Homo sapiens: one gene and its partner. The protein of the gene in region 1 interacts with the protein of each later gene in a biochemical or structural test. Each region holds a gene or a part of one and is shown in the gene's direction. Other genes may lie near its edges. The genes, in order: GNAZ and LRRK1.

The links.
Region 2: the proteins of GNAZ (region 1) and LRRK1 form a complex in vitro, tested with the Homo sapiens proteins (2 studies listed by BioGRID and IntAct, with this or other methods).

The regions. Positions count from the first base shown.
Region 1 is NC_000022.11:23,077,019-23,080,518, forward strand, and holds part of GNAZ (guanine nucleotide-binding protein G(z) subunit alpha), read left to right. Parts: intron 1-3,500. UniProt on the Homo sapiens protein: Guanine nucleotide-binding proteins (G proteins) are involved as modulators or transducers in various transmembrane signaling systems.
Region 2 is NC_000015.10:100,925,624-100,929,639, forward strand, and holds part of LRRK1 (leucine-rich repeat serine/threonine-protein kinase 1), read left to right. Parts: intron 1-4,016.

The DNA.
Region 1 (3,500 bases):
CGTCCAAAGCATGCTGTGCTGAAGAGGATTCTAAGGCTGTGCTGCAGCCCAGAGGGAAAGAGTCATGGTCGATTAGTGATGTCTGCAGCGGGCACGGGAGGCAGGATTTAGATGAGCTTGCCAGTGACTGGTGAACCTCACCACTGTACCCCCTCCTATCTAGCAGCTTTAACCCACCCTATCTCTCCTTACATGCCCCTTCCTTAGTGACACTGATGCTAACCCCTTATTGGGAAGGACTGGCCTCCGTCTTCCTGAGTCCCATGAGCAGCTCAGGTCATTGCTTGCTGACTGTCTCTTCTCTCATTTGATGCCTCACTCCCTGTAGTGACCTCAGGGTCCAACCCCATGCTTCGTTCATGGCAGCCTCTTTCTGTACACTGAAGAATGAATAAGTGAATGAGTGGTAGAGACTCAACCACTCTACAAGGCCGGGAGCCTCCTCTTGGATGTACACCTGATGTTGATCTCTGTTCCAGCAAGGAGCCCCTAGAAGCCTTCTTGGAATTGGGAGGCTGGATGGCCACGGAAACAAGGTGCTAAACCGTGTGGTTTCAGCTCCAGGTGTTGCAGGAGTGGGGTCAGCAAGGGAGGAGGGGGCAAGGTGACTAAGGAGGGCTGAGGCATGTAAAGTACCAGGCTCTGTGTTTGTGGGGCCCGGTGGTCCTGTCTGACCTTGGCTATGGAGCAGCTAATCAGGCTTCCCCAGAGGCAAAGCTGGGAAAACCTTCCAAGCTGCCAAGAGGGGCCTTCTGAAGACCCTTCTGACTATGGGTGGGAGAACTTGGCACCTACAGCCTTCACCCTGACCCCAGCAGGCCCTGACCCCCTGTGAACTGGTGGTACCTCACCCCTACTCCTCTTGCACCCCCACACTAGTGGCCCTACCCCTAACTGTGGCCAGGCCAGGGGAGGAGCAACTCCACCATGAGGGCTTGGCCCTCATGCCTCCTCCTGCCCAGCTCTGCATGGCATGTCCCTCTGGCCTTAGCTGCCCCAGCTGCATGTGGCCTCAGGCCAGCCCCACCCAGCCCTCTTGCTTCCTGTGGCCCTGTAGAGTGGCTACCAGGACCCCTGCTGGTGAGGGCGGGTGCGGGTGGCCTGTCTCCGAGCTGGGCTTTCCTCCAGCATGGTCACCCCCTCACCCGCTCAGTTACCTCTGATATGCTGTGCAAACATATTTCTCGATGAAATGCTGGGAAGAAAAATAATTAGAGTGTTGCCTCCATTATCCAATTTCGGATTAATCAAACTCTCTTTGTCCTCGGCCAAAATCTATTCATTTCCCTTAAACACTGGGCCAGTGCCAGGCATTGATTTCCTCTATGATAACACCACGCACGCAAGCACAGCCATGCCCAGCCTTGCCCCACCCCGTGGCTGGGACACAGAGGCACTGGTGGGGCTGCCCTTGTCCCCCCAACACTGCCCACCTCCTCCAAGGAGTCTCCTGGCCACACTGACACCCCCATCTCTGTCGTGGCTCCTGGAGTGCTTGGCCTCAGTCTCCAGTGTGTTTGTCTTGCCACGCTGGCTGTTCTGGGGCTCTCCCTCCTCCCAGGATGGTGTGGAATGGATAGAGGAGGTGTGGAGGGTGTGGCCACTGCGGTCCCCAGGGACCACAGGGAATGGGCTGCAGCCCCAGGCTCTGGGTGGGCCAGGGTTTGGGGGATTATCCCCATCACTGGCACAGGAAGAAGGCCAAGGGTGAGGGCCAGGGCTTCTAAGGGGGCTGAGGGGCCATGCAATGTATGTGGGGTGGGAGCACACTTGCAGGGGTAGCAACAGAAGCCCAGCCCCAAAGGGCTTACAAGATGAGGGGACATCCTGGCTCCCGGGCCTGAGGGCTTAGTCGTGGGGCAGCATCAGGATCGGCCAAGTCCAGGTGGGCGGGGGCTGTGCGTCTACCCGTGTCCACCCAGGGAAGGCCACGGGCCTTTCCAGAAGACCTCCCAGAAGTCCCCAACTATCCCCTCCGTGAGCCACGTTGACCGATTCCTCACTCAGTCACTACGAGGGCCTGGGATTGATTTATTGGCACCTGCTTGGTGCTAGGTCCATGTGGGCACATGGGATACATCAATGAACAAACAGACCAACAGTCCCTGCCCTATGGCACAGTGGGAAAGAGGTGGGCGATAAACACTCTAAGTAAATTATACAGTGTGCTAGAAAGGGACCATGCTTGGGGCAAGGCAGCACACGTGGTGTGGCTGTGTGCGAATATGGGGGTCATTTTCCATCGTAAATAGGATGGGCAGGGAGGCCTCCTAAGGAAGGGACATCTGAGCCATTGGATGGGGAGAGGGCGCGGAAGCGAAGTCCACTTGGCTTTCTGGACAAAGAGTTTTCCAGGAGGAAGGAACAGCCAGTGCACAGGCCCTGAGTTAAGAGTGAGGGATGGTGCTAGAGAGGCAGCTAGAGGCAGCATGGCAGGAGTGGGGGAGGGGGAGCATGGGCGTGGGAGTCAGAGAGGCCAGGCATTGCACAGCCCTGGTGCCCTGGCTGGACTTTGACTCGGGGTCTGCCCATGTCAAGCAAGCGTCGGGAGCAAACATGAGAAGGTTTCAAGCACAAGTGAGACATACTCTGCCTCATTTTTACAAGGATGCCCCTGGCTGCTGGTGGAGCACAGGGCACAGGGGGCTGGAGACAGCAAGACCAGAGAAGTCATACTGCTGCAAAACAGATGAGAGGCTGGGGCTGGCTAGCGGGAGTGAGTGGTAGAATTCTGGACAGTCAGGGCAATTAAGGGTTCCCCTGAGGCTGGCTGGGTCCAGCCACAACCTGTGGTGCCAGCCTCAGTTCTCAAGGAAAGGGACGCAGGGAAGGCGTGCTGGGCATGTAGTGGACACCACTCATGCCCCTAGGTCCCCAAGGTAGGGGATGGGATTGTGGGATGCCACACATGGAGGCAGAGGGCAGGAGGTTGCAGGGCCTCAAAGACCCAGAAGGTGAAATCAGATTCCCCACTCAAGTGAGGGTTTGATGGAGTCAGCAGTTTCCTTCCCTGGGGAAACTGGGGAGCCAGGAGCCTGGGGCTACGGCTCTCTCCAAGGCAGCAACCTCTTTGATTTGGCTCTTAATGAAGGCCCCACTTCTTCTCTGCTGTCATGGCCACCCTCTCCTCCATAGGTGGAACCTTTGCATATTGATTTATTTATTTACTCCTGGCCCAGAGAAATATCTGGCTTGATTTCCTCCTGAGTCAGTGTTCCTCAGGCGACACTATCACCCTTTGTCTGGTCAGCCGTGGTGGCTGTGGGCCAAAAGACAGGACAGGTGGCTGAGGGTGTCCAGAGCCAGGACAGCACAGGGTTACAGGGAAGGGCCTCCCTGTTCATCTCATCTCCCCGGTCATCTCATCTCCCCTTCCTTTAGCAGAAGGACACTGGGAGGCCCAGCCGGGGCATAGCCTGGGGTTGTCTGTAGGATGGGGACACTGTGTTCACTAACCGTAGTCCTTCCTCCCATCTGCTCGGACTATGGCTTCAGGATAG
Region 2 (4,016 bases), on another chromosome or scaffold:
CACCTTTAAGACCAATAGGATATCATCGTTTACAAATATTTGTCAATCCCTTAGTATGTACCAGGCACTACATGTACAAAGTTCAGAACTTTACGAAATAATGTCATAAAATCCTCACGACAACCTGGCACATGGTACTTTTATTTCCGTTTTATAGCTGAGGAACATGAGGGTAAGAGAAGCCTGGAAACGTGTTCAAGGTCAACAACTCAGAAATCACAGAATTGCCATCTGAACCCTGTCTTAATGCTGCAACACTCATTCTTAAATGCTAGGCCACACTATGGGAGGTGAAAGGGTCAACAGGTTGGGTCTGAGAGGCCCACGTTTGTACCCTTAACCGTGTTAACTAACGATCGGCCACTGTACCTGGCTTGGCAGACACTTTGTTCAGTTGTTTGAGTGTTTTCACTCCATCTGAAATGTCCAGCAGCTGACCAGGGTGATGTTTCTGGAAGGTGTCGTTTCACATCCATCACATTATGAAATGGGAAACGAATTTGCTTCTTGACATTGCCCAGCACTAAATCTTTCCAGAGTGTTCAACTTGCATCTTTGTAAATTTTCTTTTTCTTTGTATTAGACGTGTGTCTTTTTTCAGTTGTGTGGTAGGAAGACCTTGCTCTGTTGGTGTGAGATCGAGGTGGCGTGGGTGATAGAACGCAGTCCCCGATTTGGGGGTAGCACCTCCACCTTTCCAGTGCACGTGAGGCTCCCTTATCCTCCTGCTGCTCCTCTTCGCAGCCCTGAGGGACGAGGGTGGGGACAGGGACCTTGGGTCTGTTTGGGGCCTGTAGGGTAGGTGACTGTGTCATCTGAAAAAGCCCACAGGAGGCGCTGCTCCCTCCCCTCCTGGTCAACAGTTGGTGATCTAAAGGAGTGCTTCTCAACCACGGCCCACACAGTCACTGGGTAGTGGCTCAAACCGGCAGGGCCCTGGCACCACCTGGACCCACTGGAGCAGCATCTTGGGGCAGGGGGGCGGGGAGTGAACAAGCATGGGTAATTTTTTCTTTTTCATTTTCTTTCTTTCTTTTCTTTTTCTTTTCTTTTTTTCTTTTTTTTTTTTTTTTTTTTTTGAGACAGTGTCTTGCTCTGTCACCCAGGCTGGAGTGCAGTAGCATGACCTCAGCTCACTGCAACTTCCACCTCCCAGGTTCAAGTGATTCTCCTGCCTCAGCCTCCTGAGTAGCTGGTACTACAGGCGTGCGCCACCACGCCCAGCTAATTTTTGTATTTTTAGTAGAGACGAAGTTTCACCATGTTGGCCAGGCTGGTCTAGAATTCCTGACCTCAAGTGATCCACCCACCTCAGCCTCCCAAAGGGGTGGGATTACAGGTGTGAGCCACGGCGCCCGGCCAGCATGGCTAATTTTTCAAAGTTCCCTAGTGATTCTAACGTGTAGCTAAAGTTGAGAATCAGGCCATCTAAATGGTTTGAGTCCCATAGAGCAGCACTTCTCAAATTATCAGGTGCACATGTCCCCTGGGGATCCTGATGAAATGCAGAATCTCATTCAGGAGGCCTGGGGCACAGACAGCCTGCGTTTCTAGGTCCCCAGGGATCCCCCGTTGATTCTTACAGGTCCCAGGGACCGGGGCGCAATGGGCTTTGGACAAACCCATCCCCACCTCCAAGCTCGTGGCAGGACAGATAACCAGAAAATGTTAAGGTGTTCCGAAAGGCCAAAGTGTGGCACTCCCCAGCCCCCATGATTCTCCCTAAAGGCCTGCATCTGAGCTTGGCACTGCTCCTTAGGAGGTGTCCTCTCCTGACTCTGCTCTGATGGCCTCTTTCCCCAGTGGGATCTCAGGAATCCCTGCTATCCCTGTTCTGTATAACCCAAGGGACACACACAAGGGCCAAGGACCCTGACGTGACCTCAGCAGCCTTCACTGTGTACTGTTCAAGGAGCTTGAAGTAGGGACAGGACAGGGAAGTGACACCCTGGGAACCCCTGAGAATGAGGGAGGTGTTTGTGCAGTGACCTAATACAGAGAACACAGAGTTGAAGAGGAGAGGAAGATAGCCTGAAACACCCCAGAAAGTTCTGTCCCCTGTTTAGCATTAAGAAAATTATGTTACATGTTAATGAATTACAATAATAACCAAATCCTCATAAGGAATCTGGTGAGAAGCTACTAATTTATACCCATACTCAGAGTTTTAAGGTCCCACAGGTGGTACCAGCAGAACTGAGCCTGTGAGCCCCAGCCCTGGAGCTCACTAACAGAAGTTATTAATTCCAGGGACTAAAGCCTACAGTGCTCCCTCTGTAAAGCCCAATTTTAACGCATTGCATGTTGGATTTCATTTTCGCAGAATATATTAATAAATGTGTACACTAAGACTACAGCCAAGGAGCAGGTAATGCTCAAAGGGTGGCGTGTGGCCACGTCTGTGTGCTGGGATTGCAGTCACTGTGCTTTGCTCATCGGTGCTGTTTATGTTTCCTGCAATATCTACACATTGCTTTTTGTTTTGTTTTGCCTTCTTTTGCATCCAGACGAATAATATTGCAAGTTATTTTTAAATTATTGTTTATTTAAGTACTGATGATTTGTGTTTAGAATCTAAACGGTAAACCTCCTGTGCTTACATCCAAAGTTAGATCTGCCTCCACTGGCCTCTTTGCCTTGAAGTCTTTCTGGAATAAATGCGGAATACTTGACTTACTATGACTGCAGCTGATCCCCCCGCAGGACTCACCCTCTGCACATGTCCCCAGAGCCTAAGCTGGATTTGTCCCATCCCACCTTCTCCTAGACTTCCTGGGATGATAGGGAGCCCTGTTTCCCCTCTCCCACCCCCCAAATCCACCAGCCTCACTCAGGGAACACTGTTCAGGCCTAATTTCCAGCTCCGGCTGAGAAAAGTTGGCCGCCAGAAGGAAAACTAACGACACTCAAAATTATGTAGGGACAGCTTTCTCATGCTTTAAAAATCCTTGGAAGATAACGTGATTGAAAACGACGACGTTCTTATTATACTTCCACGTGTGCGTTAGAAAAAGACCCACACTTTAAAAAAGAGTGTCTACTCTTGGGTGTTGGGGTAATGGTATTTTTAATTTTTTATTTGTGTACTAGGCACGCCTTTTCACACCCCCTACCTGTTGTGACTTGCGTGACCTCAGCTCATGTTTGTTTACAATGGTTAATCCTTTCAAAGCCCCTGGATGTGGGGGGCTTTGCCCAGCTGGTGTGAGGCTGGGGTCTGTGTGTGTCTGCCCTGCCGTGCGGCCCGCTGTGTGTTTGTGCAACACAATTGTGTCCCAGGAAGGTGTGTGACAATCTCAACCTCATTAGCACCAGCAGCAGTCAGCTCGCCTGCGGTGCAAGAGGAATGGTTGGAAAGCTTTGATGGGCGTAGAGTTTGCCAGCTGACAGAGCAGCTGTCAATGAGATGCTGGGCATGGGCTGCAGGACGCGCATTACTTTGACAAACATGTCATTAGATGTTCATTCTTCTGAGTATGTCTGACACCAGCCAGAGTGGAAAAACCAGTCCCGCCAGCCAAGGAGAGCTGTCCTGGAAAGTAGAGAAGTCAGGAAACTTCCACATAATTCAGGTGGAGAATACTTGGGAAGACTTCTGGATTGCGGAGGGTGGGTGGAACTTGAGCAGACATCACCCAGGCAGTGGCTCGCCCCCCCAGCTCTCTGTGAGTGGCCGTCGCTTCGGTCCTGAAAGCCCTGCCACAGTCACACACCTCTCAGAGCACTGCCCACCACCGGACCCAGCATGGACCAAAGGAGGAGAAGGAACATTCCAGAAGTTCTTCAAATCCCAGGTTGTTTCATGGCTACTTCCAATGTCTTGTTTTTTTCTCCTTTGGCTTTTGCGAATCTGTATTTGAAATACAACTCCTTAATATAGGAGCTAAGAGGTTTGCTCAAGTAGGGTCTCTTCCTGCCTTCCAGAAATAGAACTAGGAAATAGATCAAATTAGGAAGAGCCTCTAGGGTGGCAGCCAGCCTTCTTGTCAGGCCACAGCAGGAAAGTCTACGAGGGA